Linked DNA regions of Homo sapiens. The protein of the gene in region 1 purifies or fractionates together with the protein of each later gene. This does not show direct contact. Each region holds a gene or a part of one and is shown on either strand. Other genes may lie near its edges.

Evidence for each region. The genes of interacting proteins can lie anywhere in the genome.
Region 2: the proteins of FAM234B (region 1) and NRSN2 purify together in Homo sapiens (affinity purification with mass spectrometry; 2 studies listed by BioGRID and IntAct, with this or other methods). This does not show direct contact.
Region 3: the proteins of FAM234B (region 1) and ARV1 purify together in Homo sapiens (affinity purification with mass spectrometry; 2 studies listed by BioGRID and IntAct, with this or other methods). This does not show direct contact.
Region 4: the proteins of FAM234B (region 1) and LAPTM4A purify together in Homo sapiens (affinity purification with mass spectrometry; 2 studies listed by BioGRID and IntAct, with this or other methods). This does not show direct contact.

Annotation. Positions count from the first base shown.
Region 1 is NC_000012.12:13,077,133-13,082,380, reverse strand, and holds part of FAM234B (protein FAM234B), read right to left. Parts: intron 2,593-5,248; coding exon 2,372-2,592; intron 1,757-2,371; coding exon 1,751-1,756; 3' UTR 1-1,750.
Region 2 is NC_000020.11:351,938-356,311, forward strand, and holds the end of NRSN2 (neurensin-2), read left to right. Parts: intron 1-1,272; coding exon 1,273-1,698; 3' UTR 1,699-2,925; downstream 2,926-4,374. UniProt on the Homo sapiens protein: May play a role in maintenance and/or transport of vesicles.
Region 3 is NC_000001.11:230,988,295-230,993,542, reverse strand, and holds part of ARV1 (protein ARV1), read right to left. Parts: intron 5,224-5,248; coding exon 5,104-5,223; intron 3,434-5,103; coding exon 3,280-3,433; intron 2,968-3,279; coding exon of another isoform or gene 2,845-2,967; intron 1-2,844. UniProt on the Homo sapiens protein: Plays a role as a mediator in the endoplasmic reticulum (ER) cholesterol and bile acid homeostasis. Participates in sterol transport out of the ER and distribution into plasma membranes.
Region 4 is NC_000002.12:20,044,180-20,049,427, forward strand, and holds part of LAPTM4A (lysosomal-associated transmembrane protein 4A), read right to left. Parts: intron 1-5,248. UniProt on the Homo sapiens protein: May function in the transport of nucleosides and/or nucleoside derivatives between the cytosol and the lumen of an intracellular membrane-bound compartment.

The sequences.
Region 1 (5,248 bases):
AACCTCCTGTTAGGTCATAATGCCTGTCAGTGGGTAATTAACAGAGATCCCTTTGAATCTGGACTTCATAATTTTCTAGAATCCTTTTACTAACACAAGCTAAAAGATACAAGCCCAGCCGGGCATGGTGGCTCACGCCTGTAATCCCAGCACTTTGGGAGGCAGAAGCAGGTGGATTATCTGAGGTCAGGAGTTCGTGACCAGCCTGGCCAACATGGTGAAACCCCGTCTCTACTAAAAATACAAAAAAAAAAATTAGCCAGGCATGGTAGCGGGCACCTGTAGTCCCAGCTACTTGGGAGGCTAAGGCTGGAGAATCGCTTGAACCCAGGAGGCGAAGGTTGCAGTGAGCCGAGATTGTGCCACTGCACTCCAGCCTGGGCGACAAGAGCAAAACTCTGTCTCAAAAAAAAAAAAAAAAAAAAAAAAAAGATACAAGCCCAGGTAAAGAGAGAACCTGAGGTGCACTCAGGGATGACCTATCAAGGTTATTCAAGAAGCAGTTTTCCATCCGCTAACATTGAATTTTCTGCTATATAAACAATGACCTAAAAGTTTAGAGGAGAACTTAATTGAAGTAGCAGATTTATACAGAAGAAGGGAGAAGTAAGCACTGGAGATAATTCTAAATAACTTAACCATTTATAAAAGTTATAGTATTTACAGAAGAATTTTCCCAAAATACAATGCTTCAAAGGCTCTACAGGAAAGAAGAGATGCAGGACAAAATGGTTGCATCCTGGACTCAAGTAGCAGAAGAAAAAGTCCAGAAACATATCCCTGAATAGAAGAGAAAACAGAGTGAGGGGAGCTAAGGAGGGTGCCCTATAGAAAAAGATGCAGAGAAGACATACAGCAGGATAAGGACATCAAAGGCTCCTGACTTCCAGTTCTCCTCTAAGTTGAAGACAGCATGCAAACATACACTTCTGATGTCGCCACAGAAAAAAGATCATGACTGGCAGAACCATCAGAGCCACATATAACACAACATGTGGACTTGGTCAGAGATGGGTCACTGAGACTACATCCTCTTGCTCCCCTTGTGATAGGAATATAGTTATTCTTGTGGTCACTTAATAGACATGGATGGAAAATCTAAGGAAATAGGATATAAAACAAGAGAGATGAAAATGCTTGGATGGCTAACTCAGTCTTCCACTATAAATCTTTCTCATTCTGTCTACAATTTGGAAGTAGCCAAGGTACAGGTGGGAAAGAATAAGGAGAGAAATAAGTGGCCCTCAACATCAGAGGTAGGGCATCTGGAAGTCTCAAAATGACCAAACAAACCAGATATATTTCAGAAGGACAAGAAACTGGATCCCTGAAGCTTAGGACATACCTGGAAAATAACTTCACCACAACACTAAAATATACACACACACAGCACAATGTACAACAAAATGTTTCCTAGTCATAGACTTCACTGGCTTTCCCAGCAAGACTTCATAAATTAGACATACCAAAAAAATTAAATACTTAAGAGATTCACATTTCCAAACGATCCACGCAGAGTTCCTAGAGGGGATTAATGCAGGGACTGAAAAGGTAGGTAAGATGCCCCAGCCAAATAGATCATGCTGCCGTCAAAGACTCCAACATGCCTTCCCAAGCCTTTGCAACCATCAGGGAGGTGGTAAATGAGGACGAAGAAGTCTTCTCTCCATAGAACTGATTTTACAGTGACAGGAGAGTAGAGAGGGTATCCACTCTGTTCACTTCTTCTGCAACTGAAGATTCCATCAGATTAGATCTATGGAAAAAGAGTTATCGTGACTTTATTGTTTTTCATGGTAGAGATGTTCAAAGAAAAGCAGGAAAACTAAAGGTCAGAATATTTCTCTATTTTCCCGTCCTTTTCTTTAGCTCCAATAGTCTGTAAACATTTCCTCCTTCCAGAAAGGCCCAGAAACTTTGTTATTTTCCATGATAAGCTTTTGAACTTTGCACTAGACTATAATATTTCTTGGGAGTGGGGATGGGGAGGGAACATTAGCATTTTGAGCAAGATGATTCTTTGTAGTATGTAACTGCTACAAGCCCTGCATGATGTTAGCATCACTAGCCCCAACCCAGAAAATACCAGTCGTAGCCACCCCTGTCAGTCATTGGGACAATAAAAACCACGACCCCACATTGTCAAATGTCCCCTAAGGAAGATGCTATTATTTCCAGCTGAAAACAATTGAGAATCATTTCTTCATGGTCAGAAGGCATCCATAGGAAACAGTGTTGGTCCAAAACAACTGTCTTGATACACATCTACTCAAGAAAGTTCCCCATTCTGCCTACTTTCTAAAGACAAAGCTGGAATTGGTAGTATTTGTCCTAAACCCTCAAGAGGAACAATATTTCTGCAGCCACTCACCTCGTAGGGAGCTTCAACAAACTTTATCCTAGAGAGAAATCTTCGCAGCTCCCCACGGCCAATTTTGGGGGTGGACTCCTGTAGCTGAGCCATCTGGCCCTCCATTAGTGCCCACCGTAGACTAAGCTTGCTGACCACCAGGGCTGCTGGATGGCCTTCGGAGCTTGGCCCTGTTGTCCTGGTAACATAAAAGGCATCTTTCCAGAGGTCGTTAATTCCAACTGAGGAAGGACAAAAACAAGAGCAGTTAACATGGACACATACCGTCCACTAACAGGAGAGGGGTTTGGTTCAACAATACATTTATTTACTCATAAGTTCATACAGGAAATGTACTGAGCACTGAATAAACAGAAGGCAGTGAGCTAGCCCACGGGTGCAAAGAGGGGAAGGACTGGACGCCAGTAAAGCAGCACATTCTTCCTGGTCTTTGCACCTTTACTCCTCTGAAGCTATTTCCAAAAAAGCCCAACTCAGGAACTGAGAGAATGTGCCCCTTGTGGCAAGAATTCAGTAGAAAAGCAAGCCCGAAACACTAGGGAGCCTGAGAATTCCCAGACTGTCAGTGCGCAGTCACAGAGGCGATTTACCTTGCCAGTGTTTATTTTGCCTTATCTTTAAAATACAAGTTGTATAAGGTGTAAGGAAGGGATCCAGTTTCAGCTTTCTACATATGGCTAGCCAGTTTTCCCAGCACCATTTATTAAATAGGGAATCCTTTCTCCATTGCTTGTTTTTCTCAGGTTTGTCAAAGATCAGATAGTTGTAGGTATGCAGCGTTATTTCTGAGGGCTCTGTTCTGTTCCATTGATCTATATCTCTGTTTTGGTACCAATACCATGCTGTTTTGGTTACTGTAGCCTTGTAGTATAGTTTGAAGTCAGGTAGCGTGATGCCTCCAGCTTTGTTCTTTTGGCTTAGGATTGACTTGGTGATACGGGCTCTTTTTTGGTTCCATATGAACTTTAAAGTAGTTTTTTCCAATTCTGTGAAGAAAGTCATTGGTAGCTTGATGGGGATGGCATTGAATCTGTAAATTACCTTGGGCAGTATGGCCATTTTCACGATATTGATTCTTCCTACCCATGAGCATGGAATGTTCTTCCATTTGTTTGTATCCTCTTTTATTTCCTTGAGCAGTGGTTTGTAGTTCTCCTTGAAGAGGTCCTTCATGTCCCTTGTAAGTTGGATTCCTAGGTCTTTTATTCTCTTTGAAGCAATTGTGAATGGGAGTTCACTCATGATATGGCTCTCTGTTTGTCTGTTATTGGTGTATAAGAATGCCTGTGATTTTTGTACATTGATTTTGTATCCTGAGACTTTGCTGAAGTTGCTTATCAGCTTAAGGAGATTTTGGGCTGAGACAATGGGGTTTTCTAGATATGCAATCATGTCATCTGCAAACATGGACAATTTGACTTCCTCTTTTCCTAATTGAATACCCTTTATTTCCTTCTCTTGCCTAACTGCCCTAGCCAGAACTTCCAACACTATGTTGAATAGGAGTGGTGAGAGAGGGCATCCCTGTCTTATGCCAGTTTTCAAAGGGAATGCTTCCAGTTTTTGCCCATTCAGTAGGATATTGGCTGTGGACTTAAACGTTAGACCTAAAACCATAAAAACCCTAGAAAGAAACCTAGGCATTACCATTCAGGACATAGGCATGGGCAAGGACTTCATGTCTAAAACACCAAAAGCAATGGCAACAAAAGACAAAATTGACAAACGGGATCTAATTAAACTAAAGAGCTTCTGCACAGCAAAAGAAACTACCATCAGAGTGAACAGGCAACCTACAAAATGGGAGAAAATTTTCGCAACCTACTCATCTGACAAAGGGCTAATATCCAGAATCTACAGTGAACTCCAACAAATTTACAAGAAAAAAACAAACAACCCCATCAACAAGTGGGCGAAGGACATGAACAGACACTTCTCAAAAGAAGACATTTATGCAGCCAAAAAACACATGAAAAAATGCTCACCATCACTGGCCATCAGAGAAATGCAAATCAAAACCACAATGAGATACCATCTCACACCAGTTAGAATGGCAATCATTAAAAAGTCAGGAAACAACAGGTGCTGGAGAGGATGTGGAGAAATAGGAATACTTTTACACTGTTGGGACTGTAAACTAGTTCAACCATTGTGGAAGTCAGTGTGGCGATTCCTCAGGGATCTAGAACTAGAAATACCATTTGACCCAGCCATCCCATTACTGGGTATATACCCAAAAGACTATAAATCATGCTGCCATAAAGACACATGCACACGTATATTTATTGCGGCACTATTCACAATAGCAAAGACTTGGAACCAACCCAAATGTCCAACAATGATAGACTGGATTAAGAAAATGTGGCACATATACACCATGGAATACTATGCAGCCATAAAAAATGATGAGTTCATGTCCTTTGTAGGGACATGGATGAAATTAGAAATCATCATTCTCAGTAAACTATCGCAAGGACAAAAAACCAAACACCGCATGTTCTCACTCATAGGTGGGAATAGAACAATGAGAACACATGGACACAAGAAGGGGAACATCACACTCTGGGGACTGTTGTGGGGTGGGGGGGAGGGGGGAGGGATAGCATTAGGAGATATACCTAATGCTAGATGACGAGTTAATGGGTGCAGCACACCAGCATGGCACATGTATACATATGTAACTAACCTGCACATTGTGCACATGTACCCTAAACCTTAAAGTATAATAATAATAAAATTTAAAAAATGAATAAATAAAATAAAATACAAGTTGTAATAAAAATGGTGTCAAGATTCTTAATTACCATTATTTGATGTTCACTGAATATTTTATGCTACTGTTGAAAAAACAGCTCACTCAGATCTAATCACAGGATT
Region 2 (4,374 bases), on another chromosome or scaffold:
TAGTTTATATGGAGAGGTAAAAGATTCAGAAATTTAAAAATCATTTATAAGAAACAATGCTTTTAATTCCCAGAAGTCCTGACAAGCATTGTGTTGGCTCTCATTGGGTCACTTGCCAGCCTTGAACTAATTACTATGGTTAAGAGATGGACTATGCTGACTGGCAGGAAGTGAGGTTCATCTCACTTAAATCTTACTGTGGTTTCTCAATGGTAGACTGGAGTACCTTGCCAGGGCAGAGAAAAAATGTGAAGAATTGATGTCTTTAACAGCCAAGGAGACTAGTCGGCCAGGGTGCACCAATGGGTCAAGGTGTAGAGGTGGCAATGAGCTGAGTGCCTGCTATGGGCATAGCTCTTTGCTAAATATTCTCGGGAGACTGAGGCAGAGGGTCCCTTCTTTTGCTTTCAAAGGACTTCACTCTAGTGAGGAGGTAAGGTGCCAACCTCTGCAGAGAGGCCAACTTACATAACTTCAGGTCAGGTCTGTAGGGAACACCAGGAGAGGAAATGATCAAGGAAGACTTCCAAGGAAAGGTTAGTGTGTATTTAAAATTTTTAAGCATCTTCTTATTGCGAGGCACTGTGCTAGGCTCTTGGGAACACAGAATTTAAGACATGAGGTCCCTGTCTTCGAGGAACTCTTTTAGCTGTGGTTTATTTAATCATTCAGCAAACATTTATTCAGCCTTTGCTCTGTGCCGGCACGTGCTAGGCACAGAAGACTCCTAGTGAGCCAAAACAGGCACAGTCTGCTCTCATGGAGCTCTCAGTACTGCGGGAGAGGCAGACGTCACTTACATAGCAACCAAAATACATGTCCAAGTGTGCACAATGGTAAGTGTATTGAAGAATGAATGGGCACAGTTTGCCCAGAGTAAAGCAAGAGACCTGACTCAGTCCAGGGGTCTTCTCCCTGAGGAGGTGAGGTTTGAGATGAGATCTGATGGTGCATAGGAGTTAACCCAACAGAGACAGGAAGGTAGAAAGGATAAAGAGATGAGTTGGGATGGAGGGAAACACAGGGTTGGCCGGAGAAACCCACTGCTAGGTGGGAGCTGGGAAGGAAATTAAGAGGCCTCAGGATTCCAAATAAAACATGACAGTTTATGCCTCCTGTCAGTTAGACCCCAGCAAGTGTGTTCTGTGATTCCCATCTCCTGAGGATGGATCAAGGGGTTACCCTTAAGTCTGGTGAGGATCCAAGGTGATCCCTTGGCCAGGGGCCCCTGGCTGACCCTGACTGCTTCCTGGTCTGTCTGCTTCTCCCTAGATCAGCCTGTCCTCGGGGACCCTGCTTCTGCTGCTGGGTGTGGCGGCTCTGACCACTGGCTATGCAGTGCCCCCCAAGCTGGAGGGCATCGGTGAGGGTGAGTTCCTGGTGTTGGATCAGCGGGCAGCCGACTACAACCAGGCCCTGGGCACCTGTCGCCTGGCAGGCACAGCGCTCTGTGTGGCAGCTGGAGTTCTGCTCGCCATCTGCCTCTTCTGGGCCATGATAGGCTGGCTGAGCCAGGACACCAAGGCAGAGCCCTTGGACCCCGAAGCCGACAGCCACGTGGAGGTCTTCGGGGATGAGCCAGAGCAGCAGTTGTCACCCATTTTCCGCAATGCCAGTGGCCAGTCATGGTTCTCGCCACCCGCCAGCCCCTTTGGGCAATCTTCTGTGCAGACTATCCAGCCCAAGAGGGACTCCTGAGCTGCCCACATGGCCTAAGATGTGGGTCCTGGATCCTTCCCCCCTTCTCACCATAACCCCCTCTCAGTGTTTCCCCAACTTCTCCCTTTTAGCAGGGTCCCTTTAGAGCCCAACTCCAGGTCAAATCTGGAGCTCAAATCCCAGTGCTCCCTCCCCAGGAGTGGGGCCCCAACTCTTCCAAGATACCAGCATTCCTCAAGTCCTCCCAAAACTTCCTACCCACACCCTCTTCCCAAGGCCCTCAGGGGCAGAAAACATCTCCTTCAACCCGTCCCCACTCCTTCCTCTGCATGACCTTGGGCAAACCCTTGCCCTTTCAAGCCATCAGCTCCTGCCTCTCTGCCATGAGGGCTTTGGATCAGATTCCTCTTCTCGCCAGGATGAGGACACGCACTGCCCTCCATAGACACAGATGAAGGGGTGGGGGTCATTCAGCTCGAATGGGTCCCAGATGCTCACTTGGCCTTTCCCTGCAGGATGAGTGAAGACGTTTGCCTCTCACAGTGTGTCTTCTACCTGCATTTTGGCATCAGAGCCCCCCAGCCCACCCACCACAGGCAATTACTAGCCCTAGTTGATAGGTGAGGTGGGTGAAGAAGGCTGGAGGTGACATGTCCGAGGTCACACAACAAAGCAGCATGCAGGAACTAGAAACACATCTTCAGCCTCCTCCTGGGCCAGCTCTTGTGCTACAGGTGGGGCGGAGCCAGCCCCTCACCTTCCTGGTTCCCTGAGGGTCCTCAGGGTGGAGGACAGGTTTGGCCCAGAAAGACTAGCCAGAGGCCTGATGGTCCCAGGTGGCTCTGGATATACTTTGGATATGGATTTAAATGGTCTCTAAGAGCCGGGGGTAGGGGGCAGGAAAAGTGGGTTGTCTTTGCCCCTCAAAGTCCACCTACCTAGAAACCAAGCCCACGGTCTTGGCCGTGACCCTGATAATAAATGGGCTCTCTCAGAGGCGCCAGCCCCTCCCTCCCCAGCCGGAGGCGTCATCTCTCTTCTGTACCACTAGAGGGAGCTCTGATGCAGCTGGAGAGCAGCGCTCAAGGCTCTCGCCCCTCCCCTCCCTAACCCTTACCTTCAGTCTCCACCAGCCTGAAGGGCCTCCTAGGGGATCCTCAGGCGGCCCCCACCAGGGCACACCCTACTGTCCTTGTGCCTCACGCCCCCTCCTCATCCTGCACCCCTTCCATCCCACCTTCCCTTTCAATAAACAGCTGGGATGGATACTGACTTTGTTTCCTTTCTCCCTGGCCACTGGGGCGTGGGGAGGAGAAAGACACAGACTCAGGAGCACCTACTGTGTGCTGGGCACGACCCATTATTTCTCATTCGCTCCTCAGGATAACCTGTTGAGAAAGGAATTATTGTCTTCTTTTTTTTTTTTTTAAGATGTTGTCTCGCTCTGTCGCCCAGGCTGGAATGCAGTGGGGCGATCTTGGCTCACTGCAACCTCTGCCTCCTGGGTTCAACCAATTCTCCTGCCTCAGCCTCCCAAGTAGCTGATATTACAGGTGCACGCCACCACGCCTGGCTAATTTTTGTATTTATAGTGGAGACGGGGTTTTACCATGTTGGCCAGGCTGGTCTTGAACTCCTGACCTCAAATGATCCGCCTGCCTCGGCCTCCCAAAGTGCTGGGATTACCGGGTGAGCCACCTTACCCAGACTTATTGTCTTCATTTTACAGATGCGGTAACTGATGATCAGAGAGGTGAGTGATTTATTTTTTATTTTTATTTTTAATTCTTTTTTATTTTTTTCGAGACGGAGTCTGGCTCTGTCACCCAGGCTGGAGTGCAGTGGCACGAGCTCAGCTCACTGCAAGCTCCGCCTCCCGGGTTCATGCCAGTCTCCTGCCTCAGCCTCCCAAGTAGCTGGGACTATGAGTAGCTGGGACTACAGGTGCCTGCCAACACACCCAGCTAATTTTTTGTATTTTTAGTAGAGACAGAGTTTCACCATGTTAGCCAGCATGGTCTCAAATCTCCTGACCTCGTGATCCGCCCGCCTCGGCCTCCCAAAGTGCTGGGATTACAGGCGTGAGCCACCGCGCCCGGCCTATTTTTAATTCTTTTTATTTCAGTAGCCTTTGGGGTCAAAGTGGGTTTTGGTTACATGAATTAGTTCTATAGTGATTCTGAGATTTTAGTACACCTATCACCTGAGCAGTGTATACTGTACCCAATACGCAGTTTTTTATCCCTCATCCCCTCCCAACCTCCCTGGACTCAGTCCCCAAAGTTCGTTATATCACTCTGTATGCCTATGCATCCTCATAGCTTAGCTTCCGCTTATATAAGTGAGAACCTACCGTATCTGGATTTCCGTTCCTGAGTTACTTCACTTAGGATAATGGCCTCCAGCTCCACCCAAGTCCTGCAGTGGATTTAAATGCTCAGCCTAGGGCCTGGAGGGGTGGCTGGGCCAGGCGAGGTGGCTCACGCCTGTAATCCCAGGACTTTGGGAGGCCGAGGTGGGTGGATCACCTGAGGTCAGGAGTTCAAGACCAGCCTGGCCAACATGGTAAAACCCCATAACTACTAAAAATACAAAAATTAGCTGAGCATGGTGGTGCATGCCTGTAATCCCAGCTACTCGGGAGACTGAGGCAGGAGAATTGCTTGAACCCGGGTGGTGGAGGTTGCAGTGAACCAAGTTCACACCATTGCACTC
Region 3 (5,248 bases), on another chromosome or scaffold:
TAGAAAGAAACTTCTGATTAAGCATCAAAATATCTACTACAGAGTAGTTGCTATAAGAATTCCAACCCATTTAAAAACAAGCCTGGTTTTTAATAGTATATACAAAATATGGACATATAACAGTTTATCTTTAGAAATTTTAAGAAGGGCCAGGAACAGTGGCTGATGCCTGCAGTCTCAGCACTTTGGGAGGCCCATATGGGAGGACTGTTTGAGCCCAGGAGTTCAAGACCAACCTGGACAACAGAGTAAGATACTGCCTTTACATAAATTTTTTTTTTTAAATTAGCCAGGCACAGTAGCATGTACCTGTAGTTCCAGCTACTCAGGAGACGGAGGCAGGGGGATCCCTTGAGCCCAGGAGCTCCAGGCTGCAGTGAGCTATGACTGTGCCACTGCACCCTAGCCTCGGTGACAGAGCAAGACCTTCACTCTTAAAAAAATAAAAATTAAAAAAAATTTTTAAGAGGCTTTGCTTTAAGGTTTAAAATCATATTAGGTTCTAGTTCTTGGGCTAGATGATGTGCTCAAGGATGTTTTCAGTAGTATTATGTTTCATAAGATAAAAAGGTTAACATATTCTTTTGTATATTTCAAATATTTTAAATTGTTGCAAAGTCCAAATTGTATACAAAATTATCGATAGACTGGACATCATGGCGGTTAAGCTGTCATAAGCCTTAGTAATTACATAATAATGGAGGCGGAGATTTTTCTATGTATTTTCCATGGATATATCTCTAGTACCTAAAGTACCTAAAGTAGTAACTGGCACCTAATAAGTATTTAAAAATATTTCTTAAGGGAATGAATAATAATGAATAGTGAATGAATAATCACCGAGTGTAACTGATGGTGACTTGCTCAAGTTAAGAGTGCGTGGATGAATGTATGCAATCATTCATTCAATCAGCTGAGCAAATATTTATTAAGCACCTGGGCCAGGCACCTAAGTGCTTGAGCTACAACCGTGACTAACACAAAGAGCCCTGACCTCATTCAGTTGACATGTTAGTGGGGAAAGGCACTAACAAAAGATAATAACTTCTGTGATATGTTAAATAGTAAGTACCATAAGAAAAACAAAGTAGAGCCGGAACAGGAGATCAGGAGTGTCAGAGGTACACTTCATTTAGAAAGTGTCATTTTAGCCAACTCTTGAGGGGTATGCAGGAGTCAGACATCTGGGCATCAGGGGGACAGGCATTCCGGGCACAGGAAGAGCCACTTCAAAGGCCTTAAGGTGGAAGCTCATCCAGTGTTTCTGAAGCAAGTTAACTAGATGGGGAGGGTCAGAGTAGACATGGGAGATGACAGCTGTGGATAAAATGAGAGACGCAGTGGGAGGGGCAGATTCCAGTACAAGGCCCACTGTAAAGACTTCAGCTTGCACTCTGAGTGAAACGGGGAGCTACTGTGTTCTAGCACAACAGTGACATGATCTGATTTGGTTGAAAAGGACTACTCTGTGTTGCGTGCAAATACACAGTTGGAGAACTGGGCTAGCAAACAAGGAGGCTACTGTAGTCATGCAGGTGAAGGATGAGAGTGGCCTGCAACAGTGTGGCAGCCGTGGAGGGAATGGAGGGTAGCAGTAGTATAATAGTAGAAGTGTGGCTGGGCGCAGTGGCTCATGCCTGTAATCCCAGCACTTTGGGAGGCAGAGGCGGACGGATCACGAGGTCAGAAGTTCGAGACCAGCCTGACCAACATGGTGAAGCCGTCTCTACTAAAAATACAAAAATTAGCTAAGCATGGTGGCACGTGCCTGTAATCCCAGCTACTCGGGAGGCTAAGGCAGGAGAACTGCTTGAACCCAGGAGGCAGAGGTTGCAGTGAGTCAAGACCGCGCCACTGCACTCCAGCCTGGGCGACAGAGTGAGACTCCGTCTCAAAAAAAAAAAAAAAAAAGTAGAAGTACTTTGAAGGTGGAGCCAATGGGATTTCCTGATGACCTGACTATGGGGTATCAAAGAAAGAGGCATCAGGGATGACTGCAAGGTTTTCTGGTGAATGCAACTAAAAGAATGGAGTTACAACTGAGAAGGAGAAGGCTGTGGTAGAGGCAGAGAGATGAGGAGCTCAATTATGGGTATGGTGATTTATTAGATATCCAAGTGGTGATGTTGAGAAGGCAGAGGGATGCAGAGTCTGGAGGTCTGGAGAAAGGTCTAGATGGACATTTGAGAGTTCTCAGCAGACAGGTTACATGACCAAGAGAGCGAGAGCAGACAGAGAAAAAAAGAGGACAAAAGAAGACACACAGCCCAGAAATGTGATATTGGAGTGGACTGGAGACTTAGTATTACTAAAGTAAGATTTCATTATAATCAAAGAGTTGAGAAGCAGAGAAGCATGGAACTAGCAATAAAATAGTCACAGAAATTAGCTCAACACAATTCTGACACTAGGAAAACAATAACTTATGAAGTGAAATTCTGAAAAGCACTTCCTGAACTTAAGGAATTTTGAGGAGTAGCCAAATTCCCTGCATGCACTCAGATAAGTAACAAGTAACAAAAAATACCAAACCCTATTAAATACACTGCATTAGTATAATGCAATTAGTACAATACATTGGGTAATGTCTGGCAATTATCTCTATTAATAAAGATAGGACTTAGCTAACTTTCAGATTGGATAATCAAAACTTAAACATTAAGAATTTTATTGGCCAGGCACAGTGGCTCACACCTGTAATCCCAGCACTTTGGGAGGCTGAGGTGGGAGGACTGCTTGAGTTCAGGAGTTCAAGACCAGCCTGGGCAACACGGAAAGACCCCCCATCTCAACAAAAAAATACAAAAATTAGCTGGAGGTGGTGCATGGTGTGGTGGTGCATACCTGTGGTTCCAGCTACCTGGGGGGGCCGAGGCAGGAGGATTGCTTGAGCCCAGGAGTTCAGGGCTGCAGTGAGCTGTGACTGTGCCACTGCACTCCAGCCTAGGCAACAGAGTGAGACCCTGTCTTAAAAAATATATAATAATAAAAATAAAAGAATTTTATCAACAATATTGTGCTTCGAAATATTTTATGAAACTTTCTAATCCGATAAGCATAACTACTTCCATACCATATACGTGGTAACAAATTTTTAAAAAGCAGGTGATTCAAACACACTCACCTCGTAGGTTAGTAGTGGTAGAGCTGAAAATTTCATCTTAAGTCCCATATTAACTAGCTCTTCTTACCAACAATTAAGACTACATGTCTTAGTTTTAACCAGATTAGTTAAGTAAGAATAGTTAACTAAGAATGGAAAGCATGGCATCTCCTTACCTAAAGCAGCAATCGCAAACATTCTATAGAAATCCCATTCCTTAGCATATCTGATCAAGTCATCAGGGGCAGTATTCTGGTTGGAATCTTGAAGCTGCCACCACCTCAGGTATGCTTCACAAAGCAAACAAAATATGCAGAGTTTTCCATGGATCTGATAGTCAAAGACATTGCCATTCAATTAGGTAAGGAAACCCAGTTGCACTAGTATCAACAGGTACAGAGTATTTGTGGCATCCCACCTAGTCACTTTTCAAATTCAGGACTGCCCAATTAAGTGGCTAATTGTAGTCATTTTGTAATCAGTGAGTTTTAATCAGCAATGTCCATCAGAAGCACATGGGGAGATTTTTTTCAAAATTTAAATGTCTGAGCCCAGGTCCTGATTGAGAATCTTCATAGTACAACATAGACATCATACTTTGAAACAGTTCTGGGGGGATTCTAATGTGCACCCCTAGTTAAGAATCACTGCTTTAAATAATAGTTCACCTTTCATTATACATTTTTGATTTCTGTCCTTTATACAGAATCAAGCAAAAAACTTATGTGATTCATGTATATGTGGGAACAGCAATAAGAGAATAGACTTAATCTGAAGATTCCATGATATTGAATAAGAAACTATTAGTCTGAACATCAGTTTTTTAAAAATATCTCCAGCTGGATGAGTATGACTCAATATGTTAAAAGAGAACAATTAAAACCTAATTCTTAAAAGTCTGAAATTTTGGCTAAAATAAAAAATACTAGGCAACAAAAATTGGCTTTTTTCTATGTATTCCTCCTTCAGGTTGAACTTTCTCCATCAATATAAAGTGAGGAAGAGCTGGGCACAGTAGCTCATGCCTGTAATCCCAATACTTTGGGAGGCTGAGGTGGGAGGATCACTTGAGGTCAGGAATTCCAGACTAGCCTGGTCAACATGGCGAACCTCATCTCTACTAGAAATACAAAAATTAGCTGGGCTTGGTGATGCGTGCCTGTAATCCCAGCTACTTGGGAGGCTGAGGCAGTAGAACACTTGAACCCAGGAGGTAGAGGCTGCAGTGAGCCGAGATCACGCCACTGCACTTCAGCCTGGGTGACAGAGCAAGACTCCGTCTCAAAAATAAATAAATAAATAAAATAACAGGACCGCCAGTTAAATTTGAGTTTCACACACACCATGAATCCATTTTTATTGTATAAGTATGTTCCATGCAATATTTGGGACATTCTTATACTAAAAAATTAATTCATGGTATATATGAAATTCAAATTTAATTGACTGTCCTGTATGTTATCTGTCAACTCTACCCAAACTATTAAAGAGCTCACAATTCAATAAACTAAAAGTTTATTTTGAAAAATTCAACTTTATAAATCAGGACTTTGATTAAACTGAATGTTATTTACCTTATACATTCCTTTAATAGCAAAGTATAAAATGCAATAAATTATGTTTTAAAAAAACATTTTTCTTTTAATGTTTGCTTAACTCATTTAGGTATAATTCTCTCCCTACCTGGATATGTCTAATTGTATTCTGTTAAAAACCAGTGATGATTGTTTCAATTTACTAGCAGGTAATTCAGATCATGGCTTGTCAGTTTCCTGCCAGTGACCATATTCTTAAACACTCACTAAGCATTGTGCACCTTTCAAAATCAACATCTATTATTTCTAGAAACTTCCAGATATGTTGCAATAAAAGACCCACTCTCACATTAGAATTTCTTTTCCTCTTTTATAATATTCTTTACTTCTGTTTAAAATTCTTATTATTCTTTTAAAATGTAACAGCATCAAATAAAATTAAAAAATGAAATTATCACAACTTACATTTATTTGAGTATTGAAAAGAATATGTCTGTAGGCCTGAGCTTTGCACAATATAGCATTAATCAAGATGATAACAGGATCATACTCGATATATTTGTCTACAGGTTTCTGGCAGGATTTCTGAAATAATACAAGATAATATTAG
Region 4 (5,248 bases), on another chromosome or scaffold:
TGGGTTTTGGCCAGCGTGTGTGGTGTATGAGTATGAGCTAATACAACTAGGTGAATTAATTACTGAACTATCAGATATATCTACTAAAACGTTATATGTTCTGTGTATGGAAATCAGTTTGAAATCAATTAGGCAAACTCTTCTTTGCTAAACACAGCATAGTCACAGTGAAAAAGCTCTCTGCGGTACAGAAATTCCTTTGTCAAGAAAAGCATGCAAACCCAATTACTAAATGAAGGGAATGACATGCCAAAAACATTTAGGAGTTCTATTTTCCCTTCTTAAATATTTTTATTACATGAAGGATTTCTAAAAATCTCACACCTATAGTCCCAGCTACTTGGGAGGCTGAGGTGGGAAGGATCGCCTGAGCTCTGGAGACCAGCCTAGGCAACAATACTAAGTCTGTCTCTTAAAAAACAAAAGAACTCTTCACTTTTCTTCTCTTCCATGGATAAGTCACACGCTCATCCACTATTATCTTCTTTTAGTACTAGAGACACTTCAAGTTTAATTTCACTGTGGGTCATACCACTAAATATTAAACAAAATAAATCGTAGGGCCAATCAGAAGGACCAAGAAACAGTGAAATAAATTTCAATGCTACTTCATTAAAAGCTTTTTCCAAATCTTCTTTGAGTTAATTATATTCCATTAGATCACATCATTTCATTAGAACCCCAACTTACATCTTAAAGTATTACACTGGAAAACCCATCCTTGTGACTTAAAAAAATTTTTTTTGTAGAGATGGAGTCTCACTATGTTGTCCAGTCTGGTCTTGAACTCCTGGCCTCAAGTGATCCTACTGCATTGGCCTCCTAAAGTGCTAGGATGACAGGCACGAGCCACCGCTCCTGGCATCCTTTGATCTTAAAGATATTCACCAACGAACGCCTACCTTGTGCTCACATGTAAGCCCTGGCAACTTATCTCTGATTAAAGTTGATATTTCTAAATTACATGTTTAGCTTTTCAAAAAATACATAAAATTAACTGTAATCTTACAATACAAAATTTCTCTGAAAATATCCAACTATGTACTAACTATTACAAATATTTATTCCTGATTCACTTTTTCCTTTCACTGTATTCAGGAAAGAAAGTTAATAAAAATGTAATTTAAAAAGAATGATTAAGCTGGGGACAGTGGTGTGTGCCTGTAGTCCCAGCTGGTCAGGTGCCTGAGGTGGGAGGATTGTTTGAGCCCAGTTCAAGGCTGCAGTGTGCTATAATCATGCCATTGCACACCAGCACAGGCAACATAGCAAGACCCCATCTCTTTAAAAAAAAAAAAAAAAGATTAAATTATTAACTTCTAAACTTGGCAATATGGAGAGGTATAGAATGCAGCAATATTTTAGCAGCATGGGCTGCGGATTCACCACTCAATGTGTTAACAGTACTGTAAATTTAATCAGTCAAATCAGGTGGTGTGCATTGTTTTTGAAAGCTTCTACATCTTATGTAAGTGTGTACAATAAGAAATCTGTTAGATTTGACTTGTTACAAAATAACTGTATCAGATCCATGGAAGCACAGGGCCTGAAGAGAGGAATTCTTTGTTTTCTTCTTTCACTGCCACACCTATTCCAGAAGATTCTCTGGAGACTTTAAAAAAAAAATCATTTTTCAGTTTTCCCACAGTAATTTGCCCAGAGCCAGTATCTACTGAGATAATAATTAAAACAGTGTGTCTGGTTTAAGGAGGCATCCAGATAAGGGCTTCCCATGCAGAGAAAGCACCCACAGGAGGGTCAATCTACAGAACTAAGCAAAGCCTGTTATCTGATAAAGATCAAAATTGACTATCTTTAAAACGTTTTTTAGCCATAAAAAAGGATTAGTTCATGTCCTTTGCAGGGACATGGATGAAGCTGGAAACCATCATTCTCAGCAAACTATTACAAGGACAGAAAACCAAACACCGCATGTTCTCACTCATAGGTGGGAACTGAACAATGAGAACACTTGGACACAGGGTGGGGAACATCACACACCTACACCAGGGCCTGTCAGCGGGTGGCGGGCTGGGGGAGGGATAGCATTAGGAGAAATAACTAATGTAAATGATGAGTTGATGGGTGCAGCAAACCAACATGGCACATGTATACCTATGCAACAAACCTGCACGCTGTGGACATGTACCCTAGAACTTACAGTATAATTTAAAAAAAAAAAGTTTTTTGTTGTTGTTTACTGTTACATGCAGATACAACTGAGTATTCACAATATTTTTTGGAGGAGACATTCATTCAACAAATGTGTAATGAACACCTCAAATGTTTTAATTAATAAGTTAGCCATCACACACATTTTATTTTGAGACAGGGTCTCATTCTGTCACCCAGGATGGAGAGTAGTTACTGCGATCTAGGCTCACTGCAACCTCTGCCTCCCCGGCTCAAGTGATCCTCCCACTTCAGCCTCCCCTGTAGCTGGGACTACAGGCATGCACCACCACACCATGCCCCGCTAATATATATATGTATGTATGTGTGTGTGTATATATATTTTTATATGTTTTATATATATTTATATATTATATATCTATATATAAATATATATTATATAAATATATATATAATATAATATATAAATATATATATAATATAATATATATTTTTTTTTGGTAGAGAGGGGGTTTCGTCATGTTGCTCAGGCTGGTCTCGAACTCCTGGGCAATCCACCTGCCTTGGCCTCCCAAAATGCTGGGATTACAGGCGTGAGCCACTGCCCTTATAAAGACATCACCCTCTTCCCTCCAGGAGAACATCTTGCTGTAGAGAGAAAAATAAGAGAAAAGGACAATCCTACCAATGTGTACTGAGTACTATTTAATAAGTACATACAAGAAGGATCCAGAAACTTTTGCAGGTGCACCGTGAGAAAAACAGATCCCCCTGGCTAGGAAGTAAAGAAAGCTTGGCTGGGCATGGTAGCTCACGCCTGTAATCCCAGCACTTTGGGAGGCCAAGGCAGGCAGATCATGAGGTCAGGAGATCGAGACAATCCCGGCCAACACGGTGAAACCCCGTCTCTACTAAAATACAAAAAATTAGCCCGACATGGTGGCGGGTGCCTGTAGTCCCAGCTATTTGGGAGGCTGGGGCAGAGGAATCGCTTGAACCTGGGAGGCGGAGGTTGCAGTGAGCCGAGATCGCACCACTGCACTCCAGCCTGGTGACAGAGCAAGACTCTGTCTCAAAAAAGAAAAAAAAAAAAAAAGGCCGGGCGCGGTGGCTCACGCCTGTAATCCCAGCACTTTGGGAGGCCGAGGCGGGTGGATCATGAGGTCAGGAGATCGAGACCATCCTGGCTAACAAGGTGAAACCCCGTCTCTACTAAAAATACAAAAAATTAGCCGGGCGCGGTGGCGGGCGCCTGTAGTCCCAGCTACTCGGGAGGCTGAGGCAGGAGAATGGCGTGAACCCGGGAAGCGGAGCTTGCAGTGAGCCGAGATTGCGCCACTGCGGTCCGCAGTCCGGCCTGGGCGACAGAGCGAGACTCCGTCTCAAAAAAAAAAAAAAAGGAAAGTTTTACCACGAAAACATGTGAGCTAACCATTAAATTATCTGGACTTGGCAAAATGTTGTTAATGGTTGAAGCTGGGTGATGAATAAATGGGAGGTTTTCGTACTACTTCACTACTTTTGTATGTATGAAAATTTCCTTAATAAAATTTTTAGAAAGTGACTTGGGAGGACAGCAACATTTCAGGGAGAAGGAATAGCATATGCAAAGGCAGAGGCACAAAACTTCCTTAGTTTAAGGAAGGAAACTAACAAATATAAACAAGCTATGCTTACTTGAAGTCAGAGGTGAGGGCTAGAAAGGAATAGAGCTTAAGGAAACCTGTTTTTACTTCTCTCCCAGATACAGAACTTCAAACTGTTTATGGTTGAGACACTCATGAAAAATTAGCCATATATTAAGTCTAAGAGATAAAATTATTACAAATGCTCAAAATGTAGTCTTGTAGTGCACACCATTAATCACAAAGTATATCTACTACAGCACACTTTTAAGTCCATTTTCAATTATTCAATAAACATTTGAGTTTATACCTCATAAGAAACTTGTTTAAAATCAACTGGCTTCAAATTCTTCAATAAATGATAGAGAAAACCATTTCAGGAATGCCAGAATTTAAACATGAGCTCATTCTGAAATTTCCTGTTACTTAACCAGGTATGCTTCTTTTCTAGCTAAAATACGAAAGGCTCACACTTCAGGGCTGGTACCTCCGGTGCATATAATAACTGGTTCTGGCTTTCTCTATGTCCCACAGCACTATTTTGTACCATACAATGAATATTTTAGTATATGGTGTTACGATACTTTAACACTAGACCAGTAGAAGCCGTGGCTAGAAAGCAATGAGACTGTATCAGATACAGTCACTGATAGCGAGGGAGAGGGGCTCCCCCAAGTTCCAAATGACACAGGGGGAATCATCATCTCAGAAGTCTGTCCCACGTAATGTAAAAAGAAACATAAATATTCTCCCATGCAGACTGAATTATTGCCTCACCAGGAATCAAGCAAGAGAGTACCTTGACAAGGTAGGTAGGGAGGGAAGTGACATTTAATACTCACTCATCCCCATATTGTTTCTCTGTCTTAGTAAAGCAGCTTCTGAGAATAAAATGCACTACTTGGACAAGCCTTCTTTGCTTCGAAGTATTATACTACAGTTTGGCTTAGGTGGTCTTGCATCATAAGTGTTACATGTCTCCCCAAGTTGGTAGAGACTGTCTTTACACTGCTATGGTATTCAAGCTACTCTTTTGAAAGTCATCAACAAAACTATAATAAACAAAACCAATGGCCTTTTTCCAGTACTTATTCTGATTAGAATCTGATATTACTGATCACCTTCTCCTCCTCCTCATCACTGTACCATATGTTTTTCATATCTGTGCTCCAAGTTTGTGATACCATAAATATCTTAAGGGCAGATGCTGTGTTAGACAAGAAACATTTGAGAGTCTAGCACTTAGCAGGTAATAGGAAAACAAGGCAAATGACACATGGCCCCTGTGATTTATTCCTTTTGTTTGTCCACCAAAGCCTTTTACACTGCAGGTGGTCAGTAAATCTCTTAATCAATTTAAGACAGGTCAAACGATTTAAGAAGTTTACAATAAAATGTTTTACACTAATCTGAGAAGTCTATGCAAAGTAAGAACAGCTATGGCATCTTTTTAAAATTGTGAAACTAAAGCATGGTCTTCAGAGGTATGT